Regions from separate parts of the Homo sapiens genome. Here regions 1, 2 and 4 are each linked to region 3. The links come from fine-mapping of genetic effects on gene expression. A gene starts in region 3. Each other region holds a variant in brackets. All regions are shown on one strand. Distances are from middle to middle.

Evidence for each region. PIP is the estimated chance that this variant, and not a neighbour inherited with it, causes the effect.
Region 1: its variant is the best candidate, but not a certain one, in a credible set for the expression of SOAT1 in whole blood (INTERVAL, PIP 0.86).
Region 2: its variant is the best candidate, but not a certain one, in a credible set for the expression of SOAT1 in whole blood (INTERVAL, PIP 0.51).
Region 4: its variant is the best candidate, but not a certain one, in a credible set for the expression of SOAT1 in whole blood (INTERVAL, PIP 0.69).

Annotation. Positions count from the first base shown.
Region 1 is chr1:179,336,887-179,342,226 of GRCh38, forward strand. SOAT1 (sterol O-acyltransferase 1) reads left to right here. Exons shown (of 16, transcript NM_003101.6): 5 at 951-1,010; 6 at 2,552-2,659; 7 at 4,142-4,424; 8 at 5,228-5,306. Among named protein-coding and RNA genes, the nearest start is that of AXDND1, 26 kb to the right of the region's middle. The variant A/G (reference allele first, on the strand shown) is at 2,973.
Region 2 is chr1:179,500,581-179,505,920 of GRCh38, forward strand. All of the region lies in intron 20 of AXDND1 (axonemal dynein light chain domain containing 1), which reads left to right. Among named protein-coding and RNA genes, the nearest start is that of NPHS2, 73 kb to the right of the region's middle. The variant G/A (reference allele first, on the strand shown) is at 2,242.
Region 3 is chr1:179,290,792-179,296,131 of GRCh38, forward strand. It overlaps SOAT1 (sterol O-acyltransferase 1), which reads left to right and starts at 3,006. Exons shown (of 16, transcript NM_003101.6): 1 at 3,006-3,145. RefSeq lists a silencer at 2,801-2,990 and an enhancer at 3,203-3,710.
Region 4 is chr1:179,352,281-179,357,620 of GRCh38, forward strand. It overlaps SOAT1 (sterol O-acyltransferase 1), which reads left to right. Exons shown (of 16, transcript NM_003101.6): 16 at 1,305-5,340. The coding sequence ends at 1,361. Among named protein-coding and RNA genes, the nearest start is that of AXDND1, 11 kb to the right of the region's middle. The variant G/A (reference allele first, on the strand shown) is at 2,613.

The sequences.
Region 1 (5,340 bases), 46 kb after region 3:
CGGGAGGCTGAGGCAGGAGAATCACTCAAACCCGGGGGAAGGAGGTTGCAGTGAGCTGAGATCACGCCACTGCACTTCAGCCTGGGTGACAGAGTGAGACTGACTCAAAAAAAAAAAAAAATCATATCATTACGTGCCTCTCTATTTGCTATACAATTGTTGTAATAAAGTACAATGCGATTAGTATATACTTTTCTAATTGATGGTTCATCCAGAATAATCGAGTGAAGGCTATCAAAGGCTAATATGTGTTAACTTGCCATTCCATGCTCTTCTCAGTTTTATGCCCCTGTTTGGAGGCATAGACTGATGTTCTGGAGAATAGTTTTGACCAATTATAGTTAAGTGCTGGTAGTAGTACGAAAAGCCCTAAAGAAGATAAGCAAGATGTTAAAATGGGAGTTTTTAGTAACTTGCAGCAACCTTTAAGATCAGGAGGCTGTTGGGAGTTGCTGGAAGTCCCTTGATATCAGGAAGGGTATGGTAAACATCAGTGCAGTTTCAGAGGACAGATCAGTAACAGTATATATGACCTGGAGTAGAGTGTGCTTAGAGGCCTGTTTATGACCTTAGGGGATCTCTACAAGAAGGAAAAGTGATTGCCAAAGTCCATAGGGGCTGAGTGTGGCGACCTTGCCATTCTCTACAAGAAGGAAAAGTGATTGCCAAAGTCCATAGGGGCTGGGTGTGGCGAGCTTTCCCTTCTTAAGAGTTGTGTATGTACCTGCCTCACAGAGAGGGTAAATGAAGTAACATACATAAAACTGTAACACAATATTTGGATCTGTTTTAGCTGGGCATGGTGGCGGGCATCTGTAATCCTAGTAGTGAAAAGGTCATTGGTCAATTAATGTTAGATGGTGTTATTGGTATATTCTCTTGTCTGTGGGATTAGATTTCTTATAATACTTGAAGTACTTATATCTTGTTTTAATTTTTCCTCTTCTCAGGGATTTGAGAGCACCTCCAGAACAAGGAAAGATTTTTATTGCAAGGCGCTCTCTCTTAGAGTGAGTATTTTTAGTTGTTTTTAAATATGTTTGATTTTTAAAAAACTATTCTGATAGAATCATTGCTTAGTATATGGACATGTAATGAGTTCTGTATCTGTATAAATCATTAGTGGGTTTTTTTCTTCTATGCTCTCTCTTGCTCCTTTCTGATCTTTTGGTTCTGTATCTAGTTTCAAAAGAGGAGTTAGGGATAAGAATGGTTATCTGGGCTTGGCACTGTGACTCACACCTGTAATCCTAGCACTTTGGGAGGCTGAGACAGGCAGATCGCTTGAGTCCAGGAGTTCAAGACCAGTTTGGGCAACACGGCAAGTCTCTCTCTACAAAAAATACAAAAAATTAGCCAGGCTTGGTGGTGCATGCCTGTAATCCCAGCTACTCAAGAGTCTGAGACAGGAGGATCGCTTGAGCCCGGAAGGGTGGAGGTTGCCATGGGCTGAGATTGTGCCCCTGCACTCCAGCCTGAGCACCAGGTGCAACACCCAGCAACTCCAGCCTGGGTGACAGAGCAAGGCTGTCTCAATAAAAAAAAGTGTACTTTTCTTTAAAAAGACATCTTATGCTTATCAAAAGTTACTTTCTGTGAGTCAAGTTGATGTTTACTACTTCCCCTAGATAAGAAGGCCGGTTTTCTAAGCATGTAATGTGCTGTTCAGTGTTTTCTAAGCATGTAATGTATAGTGTTAAGTGTTCTGTTACACTGTAGTTTGAAGGAATTAATCTTTTAAAGTTTACATCTGGGGGAAAACGCAGGCTTTTCACATAAAAGGGAAAAGAAAATTTATTTTAAACATTATAATTAGGATTTTAATGATAGAATTTATACATGAAAAATAAACAAAATTACATATTAAAAAAATTTTTAACCAAGGAAACAAAACATGTTTTCTATGGCTTAGATGAGTTTTTATTAGACTGTGAAGATCCTTGGTCCAGAGATTGAGTAGTAGTATATTAGATTACTCAAAATCATTTAAAAGATTAGCATTATCTTTCCAAAAACAAGTTAAAACAAGTTTAAAAACCTGTTTTAGTCAGATATAAAAGATTATTTAGGAAAAGTCATCTATATTATTGTTATATTCTAAAAGAAAATTAGACCAGTCTTAAATACAAAAGTCAATGAGAAGGTAAAATCTTTGTAAATGGTTGAGTTTTATAGACGTGTAGGGTAGTAATTGGTTATCATCATCATCATGATCAACATTATAGAAACTCATGTCAATTTTAACATTTTGGAAATAGGTAGTACTTAATATATATTAAATTTAGGGAGTAGAATATGAATAGGATTAAAAAATTCTTAACATTTGAAATAGTTTGTTTCCTGTTTTTAGTGACTGGCCTTTGTTTACTTAGAAAACATCCATTTCTGGTAGGTTTTAAAGAATGTAGACCATTCTTTTTTGAGATGTTTTTGGAGAGTGGATTAAGCATCTTCTCAACTGCTTTAAGTTAACTGCTTTAAGAAAAGATTTTATGGTGTTTTAAATTTAAATATACATTATTAACTTGTTTTGTTTGAACTACATTTACAGTGAACTGCTTGAAGTGGACCACATCAGAACAATATATCACATGTTTATTGCCCTCCTCATTCTCTTTATCCTCAGCACACTTGTAGTAGATTACATTGATGAAGGAAGGTAAGACAACAAAAAAGATGGCTGGCTAGTTGATGCATGAGAAGTTAGAGGTTTTCACTAAATTTTGGTAAAGGGTAAATTGATTAAATTGCTTCAGGAAATCCTAAAGCAGCAGATTTGAGGGTGATATTCCTTTGCCCTGAAAAGTTTAACTGATGGAGAAAATTAGAAGTTTCATTACTTTTATTTTTAAAATGGTTTATTTGAATAGACCATAATCAGTAATTTCTAGGTAATTTTCCCAAATGGGAGAACTTTATACACAGTTGACCTACGAACAGCACGGGTTTGAACTGTGCATGTCTATTTATAC[A/G]CAGAATTTTTTCAATCAATGTGTTTAGCACTCTGTATCCATGGGTTCTACATCTGCAAGCAAAGGCTGATTGGGATCTAGAGTATTCCAGGATGCAAAACACACATATAAGAATGGCAGATTTTTCATATCTGTGGGTTCCACGGGGCCAACTGTGGGCCTCGAATTTGCATAAGTTTTGGTGTCTGCACAGTTTCCTGGAACCAACCCCCCATGTATAGGGAGGGATAACTGTATATGACTTATTAACTTTTTGATTGTCTTTATTTAAGATGGTTACTTAAAACAAGTAGCTTATTGGAATTGAAGGTTGAAAAAGTTGATATTTCTTTTTAATGTGAAAGTCAAATTATAGGCCAGGCATGGTTGCTTGTGCCTGTAATCTCAGCACTTTGGGAGGCCGAGGCGGGAGGATCACTTGAGCTTAGGAGTTGGAGACCAGCCTGGGCAACATCTCTACAAAAAATTTAAAAATTAGCTGGGCGTGGTGGCAGACACTTGTAGTTCCAGCTACTCAGGAGGCTGAGATAGGAGGATCGCTTGAGCCAGGGAGGTTGAGGCTGCAGTGGAGCTGTGTTTGTGCCACTGCACTCCAGCCTGGATGCAAAGGAGACCAGATCTCAAAATAAAATTTTAAAACTCAAATTGTAGCTTAAAAAATGACAGCGTGGTAATCATGGATTGAATTATGTACTTTTTTTGAAAATTAAGTTTGGAGATAATGGTATAGTATATTAACATATTTTTAAATTGTACCTATTTCTTCTGAAAAATCATCTTTTGTACATAAGAACGATTGCTGTTTGAATATTTTCCATAGAATATTTTACAGTTAGAAAATTAATGTGAGAATCTAATCTTTCAGAAGTTCAAAGTCCAATTATCTTAGATATCTTAAGTTTGAAGACTGTATTTATCTTAGGGCTTTTAGAAAATTTGTTTCTAAAGAACATATATTGTTGATATATATATATATATATATATTGTAAAGCAGATGGTTAGAAGCAGATCTCTAACTAGCAGAACTATTACATCCATGACTTCAGCGTATTAACGTTGTGGTGTTTCCTAAGGTTGAAAGTTTGGTGTTTGAAACTTTTAAATTCTGTGAACTCAGTGTATATTAAAAATTCACCTCTATGTTCTTTTTCTGTACCTTTTCTCCCCAGGCTGGTGCTTGAGTTCAGCCTCCTGTCTTATGCTTTTGGCAAATTTCCTACCGTTGTTTGGACCTGGTGGATCATGTTCCTGTCTACATTTTCAGTTCCCTATTTTCTGTTTCAACATTGGGCCACTGGCTATAGCAAGAGTTCTCATCCGCTGATCCGTTCTCTCTTCCATGGCTTTCTTTTCATGATCTTCCAGATTGGAGTTCTAGGTTTTGGACCAACATATGTTGTGTTAGCATATACACTGCCACCAGCTTCCCGGTTCATCATTATATTCGAGCAGGTAAGGTTTTAAGTGTTACCCAAGGCGATGCTGTCCTCGGCTAAAATAATAATAATGATGATGACATACTGATACTATTATTTTTAGCTGTATTAACTTGGATAAATTTTCATATATTGTTCTTTTGCCATTATCTGTAAAATTGTTAAACTAGAATCATCTCACCTCTTAAGTTTCATTGTAGCTTCCATGTTCTCTGAATTTTGATAAATAAATTACGTTGAACTTTTTTTTTTTTTTTTGAGACAGAGTCTCGCTCTGTCACCTAGGCTGGAGTGCAGTGGCACCATCTCGGCTCACTGCAACCCCTGCCTCCCAGGTTCAAGTGATTCTTCTGCCTCAGCCTCCCAAGTGGCTGGGACTGCAGGCGCCTGCCACCACACCCGGCTAATTTTTGTATTTTTAGTAGAGATGGGGTTTCACCATATTGGCTAGACTGGTCTCAAACTCCTGACCTTACGATCCGCCTGCCTCGGCCTCCCAAAGTGCTGAGATTACAGGCGTAAGCCACCGCGCCCGGCCACATTGAATTATTTTTGATGCATCAAGATTTTGTTTCTGAATACTTTTTGTAAAAGTCATTTAAATTATAAAATATTTTCATAATTAAAAACTTCACTTTTGAAATGTCAGATTCATTGTTTTGTCATGTAACTATATAATAAAGGTTTTATTTTAATTTGTTTATACACTTATCAGGATTTTCTGACTTTACTGGCTATCTATAATGCATTTGACTAATGGAAAGGACACTTGCAGGAGACTTTCTTTGAAGAGACATCTTTTTCCTCCTGCTTTTGTAGATTCGTTTTGTAATGAAGGCCCACTCATTTGTCAGAGAGAACGTGCCTCGGGTACTAAATTCAGCTAAGGAGAAATCAAGTATGTAATTTCTTTTGTTCATTATTTCTTCCTC
Region 2 (5,340 bases), 210 kb after region 3:
TTGTAAAGATGTCAATTCTCCTCAGGATGCTATGTAGCGATCCTGTCCAATACAGTAGCCACTAGCCACATATTGCTATTCACATTTGAATTAATTTATTTTTATTTTTTGAGACAGAATCTGGCTCTGTTGCCCAGGCCGGAGTGCAGTGGCACGATGTCAGCTCTCTTGAACTCTGCCTCTCGGGTTCAAGAGATTCTAGTGCCTCAGCTTCCTGAGTAGCCGGGATTACAGGCACAGGCCACCATACCTGGCTAATTTTTGTATTTTTAGTAGAGACAGGGTTTTGCCATGTTGGCCAGGCTGGTCTTGAACTCCTGGTCTCAAGTGATCCACCCGTCTCAGCCTCCCAAAGTACTGGGATTACAGGTGTGAGCCACCATGCCTGGCTGAATTAATTTAAATTTAAAAATTCACCTCTCCAGTCATATTAGCCATATTTTAAGTGCTTAATAGTACATGTTGCTACCAGGGATCATATTGGACCACACATATATAGAACATTTCTATTATTATGGAAAGTTCTATTAAACAGCACTAATCTAGGTGTCACAATCAAGTTTCCAACAGTTTTTTTTTCAACTTGACAAACTGTCTCTAAAAGCTGTTTTGGATATTCAAAGAACCAAGAATAGCTAACACACTTTTGAAAATAAGGTGAGAGGACTCATCCTCCCATATTTTAAACTTCTTGTAAAGCTAAACTGAAACAGCATGGTGTTAGTTCAAAGATGGACAACTATGTCAATGGAATCAAAAAACAGAACCAAAAATTTATGGCCTTTTATATAAGCATGGCATACAGAATTAATGAGGAAATGATGAACTTTCCAATTAAAAATACTAGGGGGCTGGGTGCAGTGGCTCACGCCTGTAATCCCAGCACTTTGGGAGGCTGAGGCGGGTGGATCATGAGGTCAGGAGATCGAGACCATCCTGACTAATACAGTGAAACCCCATCTCTACTAAAAATACAAAAAAATTAGCCAGGTGTGGTGGTGCACCCCTGTAGTTCCAGCTACTGGGGAGGGTGAGGCAGGAGAATCGCTTGAACCGGGAAGGCGGAGGTCACAGTGAGCCAATCACGCCACTGCATTCCAGCCTGGGCGACAGAGTGAGACTGTGTCTTAAAACAAAACAAAACAAAACAACAACAAAAAAACTCAAAAACTAGGAATATTGGCTATCTATATAGGAGAGATGAAATGAGACTTTTACTTCACACAAAAATCAATTCCAAATGGACTAGAAACCTACATGTGAAAGTCAAAATTATAAAGCTTTTAGAAGACAATATCTAAGATCTTGGGGGTAGGAAAATTTTTTTTAAGTAAGAGATAAGAAGCACTAACTCAAAGGGAAAAGGTTCATAATTTTGATTACCTTAAATTTAAGAATTATTTTTGTCAAGAAAATACCATTAAAACAAAAACAATCCACAAAATGGGAGACTGTATTTGCAACACTTATAACTGACAAAGGACCAGTATCCAGAATAGAAAATGACCTTCTAGGAATCAATATTATAAAAATACACAACCCAATAGAAAAATGGGCAAAAAGCCTGAATGTATACCTCACCAAAGAGAAAATCCCAATGGTTGACATACTTATGAAAAGCTGCTCAATTTCATAAGTGATCAGGGAAATACAAACTAATATCACTACTTACATAACAAGCTGGCAAAAATTACAAAGTCTAGGCCGAGTGTGGTGGCTTACGCCTGTAATCTCAGCACTTTGGGAGGCCGAGGTGGGCGGATCACCTGTGGTCAGGAGTTCAAGATCAGCCTGGCCAGCGTGGTGAACCTCTGTCTCTGCTAAAAATACAAAATTAGCCCGGCATGGTGGCACGCACCGGCAGTCCCAGCTACTGGGGAGGCTGAGGCAGGAGAATCGCTTGAACCCGGGAGGCAAAGTTTGTGGTGAGCCAAGATTGCACCACTGCACTTCAGCCTGGGCAAAAGAGCAAAACTCTGTCTAAAAAAAAAAAAAAAAAAAAAAAGAAATTGCAAAGTCTGGCAATACAAGTGTTAACAAGAATGAGGGAGCAACAGGTACTTCTATACTGCTGGTAAGAATATAAATTTGTACATCCACTTTGGAAATCAGTTGACATTATCTGTTAAAGTTGCAACACACTTTGCAACAAACAATTCTATTCATCTGTCAGTATACTAGATAAGCTCTTACACAAGTGCTCTAGACTAAGAGACATACATAAGAACATTCTGGCCAGGC[G/A]TGGTGGCTCACACCTGTAATCCCAGCACTTTGGGAGGCTGAGACGGGTGGATCACCTGAGGTTGGGAGATCAAGACCAGCCTGACCAACATGGAGAGACCCCGTCTCTACTGAAAATACAAAATTAGCCAGGCGTGGTGGCGCATGCCTGTAATCCCAGCTACTCAGGAGGCTGAGGCAGGAGAATCACTTGAACCCGGGAGGCGGAGGTTGCGGTGAGGTGAGATCGTGCCATTGCATTCTAGCCTGGGCAAAAAGAGCAAAACTCCGTGTAAAAAAAAAAAAAAAGGATATTCCAAGATTATTTCTAGAAGTATCCTCAAACTGGAAACAACTCAAATGTCCATAAATAGTAGAATAAATATTATGAATATTATGGTATATGAGGACTGGCATGTAGGGAGCAATTCTCTCTTTAAACTGCATATGTGTATTTTATGTCTCTCTGTATGTATGACAGATCTCACAGTTTTTGAACAGTTTTATAACTATTATAAAACTGTTTAAAAACTTTTATGTTATAAAATTTATGTACAACATCTTGCTAATACATTTTAAATCTCTAGGAGATGGAGACTTTTCTAGGAAAATAGTATCATTAATCCTTGAAGGAGAAAATTGGCCAATTTTCAGTGAAAAATTGGATGCACTAATTTTTAGAAATGCTAAAAATTTTGCCTGGATTCCTCAGACAGGTTTTTTCAGACTTTTTTTTAATTTTTATTTTTATTTTAATTTTATTGTTATTATACTTTAAGTTTTAGGGTACATGGGCACAATGTGCAGGTTTGTTACATATGTACACATGTGCCATGTTGGTGTGCTGCACCCATTAACTTGTCATTTAGCATTAGGTATATTTCCTAATGCCATCCCTCCCCCCTGCCCTCACCCCACAACAGTCCCCGGAGTGTGTGATGTTCCCCTTCCTGTGTCCATGTGTTCTCATTGTTCAATTCCCACCTATGATTGAGAACACGCGGTGTTTGCTTTTTTGTCCTTGTGATAGTTTGCTGAGAATTATGCAGACTTTCAAGGAGTAGGGTAATCCCCATGCTATATAAACAGTGTAAGAGCATAGATAACGACTGAAAGTATTCCCATTTTATTTCACATAGCTACTAATGTCCTTTAAAAAGTCCAGATGAGTATAGAGAAAATAAATCTTATGTATTAATATATAGGTGCTAAATCCAAATTTAAAATAGCAAATTTAATGTGGTAGAAAATTACAAGACTAAAACACCATGAACATTTAGGGTGTATGTCAGGGAAGCAATAATATTTTACTATTTGAAAATATGCTACTATAGGTATATATCACTTCTCATCTAAGAGTTGAATGAAATGTCTGAGTTCTCATTTTGGTTCTGGGAAGGCTTCAGAAGGATTCTTCACAACAGGCTGTTATACTTCTGAACCAAGCAGTCTCTTGGAACCCACACTATACATCTAGAAATGTGTTCAAGCCTTCTCAGGCCTGCTGCGAATAGCCCCTTCTTCTGTCCACCCCAGGATGTGGTGGGGATCCTGATTTTGGCAGGCTGGACCTGCCACAGATGGTGGTGGAGACCCACTGGCCAACTCTATGACACACTTAGTCCTCATTTACCTAAAAGTGGGTAGAGCTCTGTGTGGCGAGACCAGGTTTTCAGATAAAGGTAATCTGGAATGAGGATTTCAAGATGTTTTGAGGTGTATCTCCCTATAAAAGTTAAGGCTATAGCCATATGGAGGACACTATCATGAGGAGCCCTTCCTGAGGGAACTTCAGGGTTCAGGAACTTATAAAATTATCCAGATGAGGAGATTTTGTGGAAGCCTTGTGCTATGGCCATTCATTGCCCTGCGCCACCCCATCCCCTGACTGGATGCCCATAACCTGACCATCTCTTTGAGGACCTACACTTTCCACTAGTGCTACTTTGGTCCTCTGTTAAGCTCTTTCTCACTCACTAACCGTTCTCTAGTGATTTCAGATAAATAAACTGGGGGAGTCTTATCAGAGGAGGCTGAGAATCTGCTCTCACACCAGAGGTAAGGCTGTAACTGAGCCTATGCAAAGGCCTTCTTCTGCTAAGAAAATGCATATGCCTTTTCCCTAAGCCTGAGGCCTCTCAAGGGTATATCAAGCGAGTTTATGGTAAGGGGCTTAGCAGACCATACTGAGGTACTCTTTAAAAAAATGGTTAGTTCCATCTTCATGAAGGTTATTTTTATTTCAAATTCATCACCATCCTGGACTGCTACCATCTTCTCCTGATCTAGACAAACCTCTATGGTACATGAATCTTTATGACATCAGACTTTGGGATTTCTATGGCCTCATCCACATCCCACAAGGTGAAAAGAAGATGGTTTTCCAGAGAAGCCTTGTCTAATGCAGCTCTATGGTAATGCTGTGTGGCTTGTGCCACATTCTAGCATTTGACCTACTAGACTGATATTTGGATGACATTAGTGAGAGTTTCCCACAAGCTAATGTTTCTGCTTCTTTCCAGCCAAGGAGATTTGCATGATGCTGGACAGGGTTCAGAACTGAGGATCTTGGCCAGGTGCAGTGGTTCATGCCTGTAATCCCAGCATTTTGGGAGGCTGAGGCAAGCAGATCACCTGAGGTCGGGAGTTTGAGACCAGCCTGGCCAACATGGTGAAACTGTGTCTGTACTAAAAATACAAAAATTAGCCAGGTGTGGTAGTGGGTGCCTCCAAGCTACTCAGGAGGTTGAGGCAGGAGAATCCCTTGAACCCGGGAGGTAGAGGTTGTGCCGAGCCGAGATTGCTCCACTGCATTCCAGCCTGGGCAACAGAGCGAAACTCCATCTCAAAAAAAAAAAAAGAAAAAAGAAAAACAGAAAAAAATTGAAGATCTCCTAGGTAACCATCTTTTGGAGTTTGATCACCCCTACTGATATAAATTCTTACTCCACTTTCCATAACAGTCTAGGTAAATTGCTTCTTCAGAAACAGATAGGGATTATCTAGTTCCCCAAGAGTACTAAGGCAGTCCAGGGGCTAATTATTTACCATCCACCTGATCCTGGCATAGCTTGATCCAGTCTGACCTCATACAGCGGGAGGCCATTTTTTAGGAGGACT
Region 3 (5,340 bases):
GAGTCTGAGCACAGGCTTTGGAGTCCCTCCAATCATATATCATCTTTGCCCTTGCACTAAATGGTATCCCCATCCTCTCAATTGCTTAAGGAAACAACCTGGGAGTCATCTCGTTTACTACCTTTCTTCACACCTGCACCTCGGGAAAATATCCTGAAATCTTTCAATTTCTATTTCCACACCAACCAGCCTAGTCCAGGTACCACCATCTACCCCCTGAACTTGCCCAATAACTTTGTATTGTTCTTCGGCTCCTTTTTGTTCCATTGCTGCTCCCTTCAAGTCATTCTCTATAAAATAGGTTGATTTAAAAAAAAAAATAAACCAATGGCCGGGCACGTGGCTCATGCCTGTAATCCCAGCAGTTTGGGAGGCTGAGGCGGGAGGATCACTTGAGCCCAGGAGTTCAGGACCAGCCTGGGCAACACAGCGAAACCCTGTCTCTACAAAAAATACAAAAATTAGTCTGGTGTGGTGACGCCCACCTGTAGTCCCAGGTACTAGGGAGGCTGAGGTGGGAAGATGACTTAGCGAGCCTGGGGAGGTAGAGGATGCAGTGAGCCCTGATTGCACCACTGCACTCCAGCCTGGGCGACAGAGTGAGACCCCATCTCAAAACAACAAAAACCCAAACCCTTCATTATCTTGCCTTTGCACTTAACAGATAAATCCAAACAACGTGATTAGGTTCCTGCTTAATGCTCCAAACTCAACTTCAAACCCCTATTTGACATGCTCAAGCCTCCTGGCCTGTTCCTCAAACAGCCACGCTTCAGCATCAGCCACAGTTCAGCATCGGGGCCTTGACACCCATTATCCTCTGTCTAGAATGTTCTTCCTCCCCATGGTTGGCTTGGCTGGCTCCTTCTTGTCATTTAGGTCTTAGCTCCTGAATTATCTCCTCAGAAAATCCTTCCCTGACCATTCTGTTTTGTTTTCTGCTCAGTACTTATCACTGCCAGTGATTATCTCATCTATTCGTTTTATTATTTATATTCTTCATTAGAAACATAAGCTTTTGTTGTTTGAGACAGAGTCCCACTGTGTTGACCAGGCTGCAGTGCAGTGGCATGATTTTTTGGCTCACTGCATCCTCCGTCCCTCACCCCCCATCCCCCACCACAAGCAATCCTCTTATCTCAGCCTCCCGAGTAGCTGGGACCATAGGGGCCTGCCACAATTCCCAGCAAATTTTGTTGTCATTGTTGTTGTTGTTGTTGTTGTTTTTAAATTCTGTAGAGAGGGAGTCTCACTATGTTGCTCAGGCTGGTCTTGGACTCCTGGCCTCAAAGTGATCCTCCTGCCTCAGCCTCCCAAAGTGCTGGGATTATAGGCTTGAGCCACCTGTTTGTTTCCTTTCATACCTAGTCCTGCAGAACATAAGCCTCTAAGTGCAGGGGCTTCTTCTGTTTATTCACCACTGTATTTCTAGCACCAAGAATACTATCAATATTTTTTGAATGAATGAATCAAACAGTGAAAAGGCCAGTCATCTTGGTGTATATAGAAGGTAGCCAACAGAGACCCAATAGAAATGAGTGCCTATGTTCCTACTGCTCTATAACTAGTGGGAGTGGGGAGGGGAAGCAGCTGGGGGTCTACCAGACCCTGTCACCAACTAGTCAGCACACGTGGCAATCACAGTTGTAGAAGAGGCCAAACGGAGCAGATCTGCCAATGACAGCCAGTACTAAACTCGACTGGATGCTGAGGGCCATTTCTGCTTTGAGTGAACAGTGCAGCCTGCTGGGTGGCCAAGGGAACGTGTACAAATCCACTTTGTTTAAAGGACCCAGAGAGTAGTCAGTTCTGCTAAACCTCATCTGTTTGTTCAGGGATTTTTGTCCTGGGGAGGAGTGGGGAAGAAGCGATTAGTCAGGCCAGGCTAGCTGGTATTAGTTTGCAGGCTGTGAGTGCGACTCTTCAGTCTCTGCTCCTCTCATCATTGCCTTTTCACCTACCTTTACCCTAAATTTACGTACACCTCTGCCTTCACAAATTCCAAGCGATTAACTGTTGTATTTAATCTCTGTCCCAAATCTCTCTGCATCATTCTTCTTTTGATTATGAAGTCACGAGGGCCCTTTGTTTATTTTATTTTTAAAACTTTTTTTGAGAAGGAGTTTAGCTCTTATTGCCCAGGCTGGAGTGCAATGGCACAATCTAGGCTCACTGCAACCTCTGGCTTCCGGGTTCAAGCAATCCTCCTGCCTCAGCCTCCCGAATAGCTGGGATTACAGGCGCGCGCCACCAAGCCCGGCTAATTTTTTGTATTTAGTAGAGACGGGGTTTCACCATGTTGGTCAGGCTGGTCTCGATCCTAACCTCAGGTGACCCAGCCACCTCGGTCTCCCAAAGTGTTGGGATTACAGGCGTGAGCCACCGCACCTGGCCTCAAGGGCCCTTAAATATTACTTAGTTGTTCCATTATTTGGTGTGTTTTATTATTTGGTGCAGGTTTTTTCCCCTTATCTAGTTTGAATGTTGCTGAAGGACGCTGGTTTTCAAACGGTAAGGAATCTCCTGATAAAGGCACGAATCTTGGTGTGCAGATAAGCCAGCGATTCTTGCTTCTGGCTAGTTCTACGTTGTTCCTGGATGGTCAGTTCAAACTGCAATGATCCACAGCTCCAGAAGCGGCTTCTTCCAGTCGGCCTAGGAGCCAAACGCCCCTGCAGCTCCATGCTACCACGCAGGGTGCCGTTTCGGGCTTGCAGGGAGTTGTCGCAGTCCCGTTTTGGCTGCACATTCTACTGCTGGGGTGGAAGTGTCAAGCAAGATGTTGTCGCCGGTATCATGATGTCCGGGTGAGAAGCTTCCTTGGCAGGTTGCCAGGGCCAGCCTGCGAGCACTGGCGCCGGGGACCCGCGCGCCCGGGAAGGGGCGGGGAGGTGGGCGGAGCCTGGCAACCTGGGGACCACCAATAGGATGCTCAGCCGGAGGTGGCCCTGCGCGTGACGCAGCGGTGCTCGGAGGCAGGGGGCGTAGGGGCCGGGCTGTCCGGCGCTTTAGCTTAGCAGGCGACGTTGCGGGCCCTGGGCGCCAGGAGAGCTTCCCGGAGTCGACCTTCCTGCTGGCTGCTCTGTGACCGCTTCCCGGCTCTGCCCTCTTGGCCGAAGTGCCCGCTGCCGGGCGCGGGCCTCAGGTAACGGTGGTGCTCCCGCGCCTCTCCTCGCTTCCCGCTTGGGTCCACCGGCCTCAGCCCGCGGGGAAGGGAGAAGCGGTGGCGGCAGCAGCTCCGGCCCGGCCTTGTCCTGGGCTGTGCTGCGGAGAAGGCGAGGCTCGGCGACTGCAGGGGAGTTGGGGAGGGGAGGGCGGGAAAGTTACCGTCAGGCGCCCGGGTCACGGGCAGCCTTTTAAACCCTGCACGCTGGTTTGGTGTTCCGCAAATCTCGTGGCATCTCTCAAGTCAGTAGTAAAGAAAGTTAGGAATTAGAAGACGTTTTATTCTTTAAAAAGCGAAACCAAAAATGCACTCAGGAAGTCAGCTTTTTAATGATTTAGAGAAAATGTGTGAAGGGAAGGATGGTATTAGCAAGACATGAAAATCTGTAGGGGCACCAGAACCTTTAATCAAGCTCATGTTTTATTGTAAAATATTAGGATGTAGGTAAGTTTCTGTTTTCCCTAAGTGTTAATGGTCATGTAATTTAAATAATATGTATATTGAAAGGTTATTTCTAAGTGAGAAACAACTATATAAACTTTATTCTCCGTATATATATTTAGGTTAAGTTCGTTGGTCACTTTTGTTTGTTTGAGACGGAGTCTCGCTGTGTCGCAAGGCTGGAGTGCAGTGGCGCAATCTCGGCTCACTGCAACCTCTGCCTCCCGGGTTCAAGCGATTCTTGTGCCTCAGCCTCCTGAGTAGCTGGGATTACAGGCGTGCGCCACCACGCCCAGGTAATTTTTGTAGTTTTAGTAGAGACGGGGTTTCACCATGTTGGACCAGGTTGGTCTCAAACTCCTGACCTCAAGTGATCCGCCCGCTTCGGCCTCCCAAAGTGCTGGGATTACAGGCGTGAGCCACCGCGCCTGGCCTGTTGGTCACTTTTTAATATTTAAGTGGCTGCCACCTGTTTAAACCACTTTTTTCTTTTTTTCAGCCTGCTTGATTTCCTCTTCCTTGAAGTAGAATTCAATTTGAAGCTTTTTTTTTTTCTTTTTAAAAGTTGGGCGGTGTCAGTGAATGACTTGTTAAGGAAGTCTGTGCGTTGTCTGGGTGTGAGAATGGGTTTTGGAAGGAGCTCTGTGGCACTGAATTATCGTTTAGAAATGCACGTGTTTTAGTGAATCACATGCTTAGAATGCATCTGAGGTTTCGCAGTCTTTTAGGATAAAGACCTACTGAGTGAGCACACTCTATCTCTGGTTCATTTGGCCCACTTTCCTTCTGGCTTTCCAGGTTCATGCCACACTGGCTTTATTTTTGTTACTGGAAAGCTTCATTTTCTTTCCTCTCTTGGCTTTTAGGAGTTTCCTCCACCTCTAATGCTGTATTCTCTCCCTCCCTCCAACTCTTATACCTGCCTCAGATATCAGCCCACATATCACTTCCTCTGGAAATCACCCCATCCCCATTAAGCCCTCCATGAACTCTTTATTCTCCTTAGCAGAAGTTGATCATTAATTGTAATGAATTAGTTGCTTTGTTTCCTCTGCTAGTGCATTTCATGAAGGCTGGTTTAGCCTGTTGTAATTTTCAGGGTCTGGTCCAGCACTTGGCCCAGAGAAAGAATGAATAAGTTGGTGGACAGAGGAAGGAACTTTTGAATGAGAAATACAGTGATCCCCACTTAACTGCTTTCTGTAGTTTCAGCTACCTGAGGTGCGAAACAGAGTACAATAAGACATTTCGAGAGATACCATGTTCAAGTGAATTTTAATACAGTATATTGTTAATCTCTTACTGTGCCTAACTTTTTGAAACTTTGCCTCCCAGGTTCAAGGGATATTCATGCCCCAGCCTCCCAAGTAGCTGGGATTACAGGCGTGTCCCAGTACGCCCGGCTAATTTTTTTTTTTTTTTTTGAGATGGAGTTTGGCGCTTGTTGCCCAGGCTGGAATGGCACGATCTCGGCTCCCCGCAACCTCCGCCTCCCGGGTTCAAGCGATTCTCCGCCTCAGCCTCCCAAGTAGCTGGGATTACGGGCATGTGCTACCACGCCCGGCTAATTTTTTTTTTTTTTTTTTTTTTTTTTTTTTTTTTTAGTAAAGACTGATCAGATCTTACTGGTCAGGCTGGTCTCGAACTTCCAACCTCAGGTGATCCACCCGCCTCAGCCTCCCAAAGTGCTGGGATTACAGGCGTGAGCCACCGCGCCCAGCTCACCCGGCTAA
Region 4 (5,340 bases), 61 kb after region 3:
GTAACACAGTATAGGACATAGGAATTTCCCAGCAAACACTCTGGTTAATTTAATTGATGTGATCTGGTTAATTAGATCTACTAGCACTAGCTGAAAGTACTGCTTATAGTTATGGATAGAATTTCATGATGGAAACACCCTAAGAAGTAGGATTGCCAGGCTTTTTGTGCATATAGGGCGTGTCCTATATTTAACATTTTTGTCCTGCCTCCTGTATTGGGTTTCTTAGAACACCCCAAATGTCCTATATTCTGCTTTTTTCAGTAAATTACAAAAAATATGGCAGATAGAGCTATTTGTCTCAAGTTCATCTCGGCATCCTGTACTTGTATTTGCTAAATTTGGTGGCCCTACTAATAATTCATTCAATCCCTACAACCTTCCAGGTTTGGAGGGGATACCTTCTTGATTTATTTCCTGGGTATTTCTCATAGGCATCTGTAACTGAAGATGTCCATAATGAAATTAATCAGTTTCCTCTCCAAAGCTTCCCCTCTTTCTGTGTACCCTATGTCTGTTAGGCTGCCTCAACTCTCCCTCTTTATTTCATATTAATCTCCTTTGTTCATCTGAAGTAATTGCTCTTGACTGTCCCTGGTCACCTGGATTCCACATGTCAGATTTTATTCTCCTATCAAAATCCAGTTTGGATGCCACATCTTCCATGATGATTTTTCAAATGCTTGCTTCCCTCTCTTTCCTATTTCTGAACTTTTGTAGTGCTTCATTTGCTCCTCCTTTGATAGTTCAGTAATTTTAAACCTTGTATTAGTCATTTTTATATATATGTCATTTATGTATATATTAGTCATTTATATATGTGTATATATAATATATATTTATATTTATATATTTATTTATATATTATATATTAACTAATATATACTAATATTTAGTACCTTAAAATCTAAATGGTGGTTATATATAAATATATATATATATATCTATTTGTCGTCCTTAACCACCATTTAGATTTTAAGGTACTAAAAGTAGGGCTGTGCTAAAATAAAGATACAGAAAGAAATAGTGCCTATTTAGAAACTGGTCAAAGTCCACACAATTGTGTATAGTTTACTGGACTTTAAAAGCTTTATGTGAAGCACCTAATTGAATAAATCTGTGTTATAGATAAAAGTACTGAACATCTTTTGAATTAGTGAGCTGCTTATACCTTGAGGGTTGTTGAAATGGTGGGAGGCATTTTAGAGATGTACAATGTATCATATTAACATCCCTGCCTATCTCCACACCTCCTCTACTCTGTACACAAATTATTTTTCCATTCTTATTTTTCCCCACTGCAGCCCACATTTTTGGATTATGTCCGGCCACGTTCCTGGACTTGTCGTTACGTGTTTTAGAAGCTTGGACTTTGTTTCCTCCTTGTCACTGAAGATTGGGTAGCTCCCTGATTTGGAGCCAGCTGTTTCCAGTTGTTACTGAAGTTATCTGTGTTATTTGGACCACTCCAGGCTTTACAGATGACTCACTCCATTCCTAGGTCACTTGAAGCCAAACTGTTGGAAGTTCACTGGAGTCTTGTACACTTAAGCAGAGCAGAACTTTTTTTGTGGGGCTGGGTGGGGGGAGAAGACCGACTAACAGCTGAAGTAATGACAGATTGTTGCTGGGTCATATCAGCTTTATCCCTTGGTAATTATATCTGTTTTGTTTCTTGACTCTGTCCAATCAGAGAATAAACATCATAGTTTCTTGGCCACTGAATTAGCCAAAACACTTAGGAAGAAATCACTTAAATACCTCTGGCTTAGAAATTTTTTCATGCACACTGTTGGAATGTATGCTAATTGAACATGCAATTGGGGAAGAAAAAATGTAGAATGATTTTTGCTATTTCTAGTAGAAAGAAAATGTCTGTTTTCCAAAGATAATGTTATACATCCTATTTTGTAATTTTTTTGAAAAAAGTTCAATGTTCAGTTTTCCTTAGTTTTTACCTTGTTTTCTCTATAGGTCATGATTTCTGTGAAGCAAAAAGATGCCTTTTACCATGAATTCTTGAGTTTACATCAATAATATTGTATATTAAGGGGATCAGAAGTAGGAAGGAAAAAATAAGAGATAGCAGAGGAAAAAGAAAAACATTTCCTCTTATAACTTCTGAAGTAATTTGTAAAAAAGATTTGTAGAGTCAATCATGTGTTTAAATTATTTTATCACAAACTTAACATGGAAGATATTCCTTTTTAACTTTGTGGTAACTTCTTTGAAGTTATTTAGAAATATCCTTTGGAACAATTATTTTATTGTCTAATAAATATTGACTTCTCTTGAATTATTTTGCAGACTAGTGAGTCTGTACCATAAGTATTAATCACCTCCACTCATATTAAAGTGATCATTAAGAATCCAGAAGCTGGCTTCTGCATTTGCTCAGTTATACTTTTAATGGTAGTATGTTTTTAGGTGGAATAAATTAATATGTGATTGGTTTCAAGGAAATGTACTCTATTATGTAATACTTCCATTTTATAAGATGCCCATTTCTAATACAATGTGTGTAGGAATTATTTGTATGTATGAGGTATGATTGTAAAGATTGAGCATTGGAAGGGGTATCAGAGACCATGTAGTTCAACTTTCCACTCAAA[G/A]TAAGATTTATGAATTATTTAAATGATAGTTGTTACTTGGAACAGCCACTTGAGAGGCTCTCTTGGTATTGTTTGGAATTGTTTTAAAGTCAGTTTGAGTCTCACAAGAAGGTAAGTAGAGTTTCTTAATAGTCACAACTTAATTTGAACCACAAGTATCCAGCTTAATCACGTATCTTACTCACGATACCACTGGTCCAGATGAGTTTAGGTAATTTTCAAACATTAAATCCAACTTCAACGGAAACAAATACACTCAAGGGAAGTTATTTTTAAAAAGGTACTCTGCATGTTCCCGCAGTAATGTTCTGCACAACAGTATTGTAATTGTAATGGAATCATAACCTGCTAACTAGTTTGCTTTAATATGGCTTGTAATTCTTGACATTTTTCTTAAAATTAAAACGAATTTTTATTTTGAATTTATAACTGCATTTTAAATATATTGGGGACAGATTGCGCTGAGACCTGGTTATGAGCAAGCCAATCTTTTGAATCTAGAGAATGGAATTCTTAGGTTTATATTTCTGTTAAGAAATACTATAAATATGACTCTTATGAGAAGACTTTGTTGCTCTGTAGTGTTTCTGAATACTGTATTTGTTGGATTGATCAAGGCTATTTTTCAAAAAGCTCTCTGCTTCCTGTTTGTTTGTTTGTTTGTTTTTGAGACAGAGTCTTGCTCTGTCGCCGGGGCTGGAGTGCAATGGCGTGAACTCAGCTCACTGCAACCTCTGCCTCCCTGGTTCAAGCTATTCTCCTGCCTCAGCCTCCTGAGTAGCTGGGATTACAGGGCCACGCCTGGCTAATTTTTGTATTTTTAGTAGAGATGGGGTTTCACCCTGTTGGTCAGGCTGGTCTCAAACTCCTGACCTTGTGATCTGCCCACCTCAGCCTCCCAAAGTGCTGGGAAGACAGGCGTTAGCCACCGTGCCCGGCCTCTGTTTCCTGTTATTAGTGATTTTCCTGCCCAAGATTGCAACAACAAATATGTAGAACTACAGACTGTTTAGAATGCTGAGACTGTTCTAAGAAACTTTCAAAAACAGTAGCACTTCAAGGAATGGTCACTTTCTATGAAAGAAACTGGTTTGATAGCCATAATCTTATTGCTAGCTGCTTTTAGCAAAAGTCTTTTCTTGAAACCACCACCTATACTCTTTAAACAAATAAAAACTAAAATCTCTTGCTAATGTTTCAGGAAGATTTATTTTTTCTATTTTGCTATTGTGGCGAAAATTATTTTCAGTTATAGGATACTTTTTTCCTTCTGAAAAGTAATAAGCTTAAAGTTTTTGTTTCTGTAAGATGTAATGATAGTAACTATTATTTTGGGCATATTAACCAACAGAACAATTATGTAGTATGTATATCACTTTCTCATTAGATCTCTAACTTGACCTTCTAGTACCTTTATGTGTGAGGATAAATTTGTTAGATCCTTTTATTCTCAATCTTGGATAATGATGCAAAATGGAATTTTGTTTTGTTTGTTGGTAGATTCACATACTAAAACTTTGCAGGTAAAGTTGCTTGCCTCATGTTAGAATTTAATTAGAAAACTGAGGCTGCCTTTTTTTTTTTTTTTTTTTTTTTTTAAGACAGAGTCTTGTTCTGTCGCCCAGGCCAGTTTTTTTTTTCTTGTACAGATGGGGTTTTACCATGTTGCTCAGGCTGGTCTCAAACTCCTGGAGTCAAGGGATCTATTTGCCTCAGCCTCTCAAAGTGCTGGGATTACAGGTGTGAGCCACGGCTCCTGGCTCCTTGCTCCAGAATCAGTTTTTTAATGGAAGATAGCTCATACTTTGTTTTTGTTTTTAAAGAGACAGGGTCTCACTCTGTTGCCCAGGCTGGTAGTAGCGTGATCATAGCTCACTGCAGTCTCAAACTCCTGGACTCAAATAGTGCTCTGGAGTACCTAGAACTACAAGTGCCTACCACCACACCCAGCTAATTTATTTGTTTTTTTTTTTTTAGAGATGGGGGGGGTCTCCCTATGTTGCCCAGGCTGGTCTCAAACTCTTCACCTCAAGCAAAACTCCCACTGCAGAAAGCTTTGGGATTACAGGCATGAGCCACCATGCCAAGCCCATACTTATTGTTAATAAAGTTTCAGTGACTTGCTTACTAATCTTATGCAAAATTTCATGTAATTTATGTAATACTACATAACAATGCTACATATGGTATGTATACATACACTGTATACACACAAAGGTCTGTTCTGGGTATTTTATGTATCTTATCTCTAGGCTTTATGGCTCTGAAATGGAGGGAACTGGACATAAATGTTTCAAGGAATAAAGTGAATGTTTTGTTTGTTTGTTTGTTTTGAGACGGAGTCTCAGTCACCAGGCTGGAGTGCAGTGCTGTGATCTCAGCTCACTGCAACCTCTGCCTCCTGGGTTCAAGCGATTCTCCTGCCTCAGCCTCCCGAGTAGCTGGCATTACAGGTGCCTGCCACCATGTCCAGCTAATTTTTGTGTTTTTAGTAGAGATGGGGTTTCACCATGATGGTCAGGCTGGTCTCGAACTCCTGACCTCATGATCCGCCAGCCTCAGCCTCCCATAGTGCTGGGATTATAGGCATGAGCCATGCTCCCGGCCAAAGTGAATGTTTTGGGTGAAGTTTATATAAGGATTTGACTTTTGTATCATTATTAAAGTTTCTGTCAGGTAATACAGTGTTGGCCCTCTGTTGAAATAAAATGTTACATATCGCTGGGTG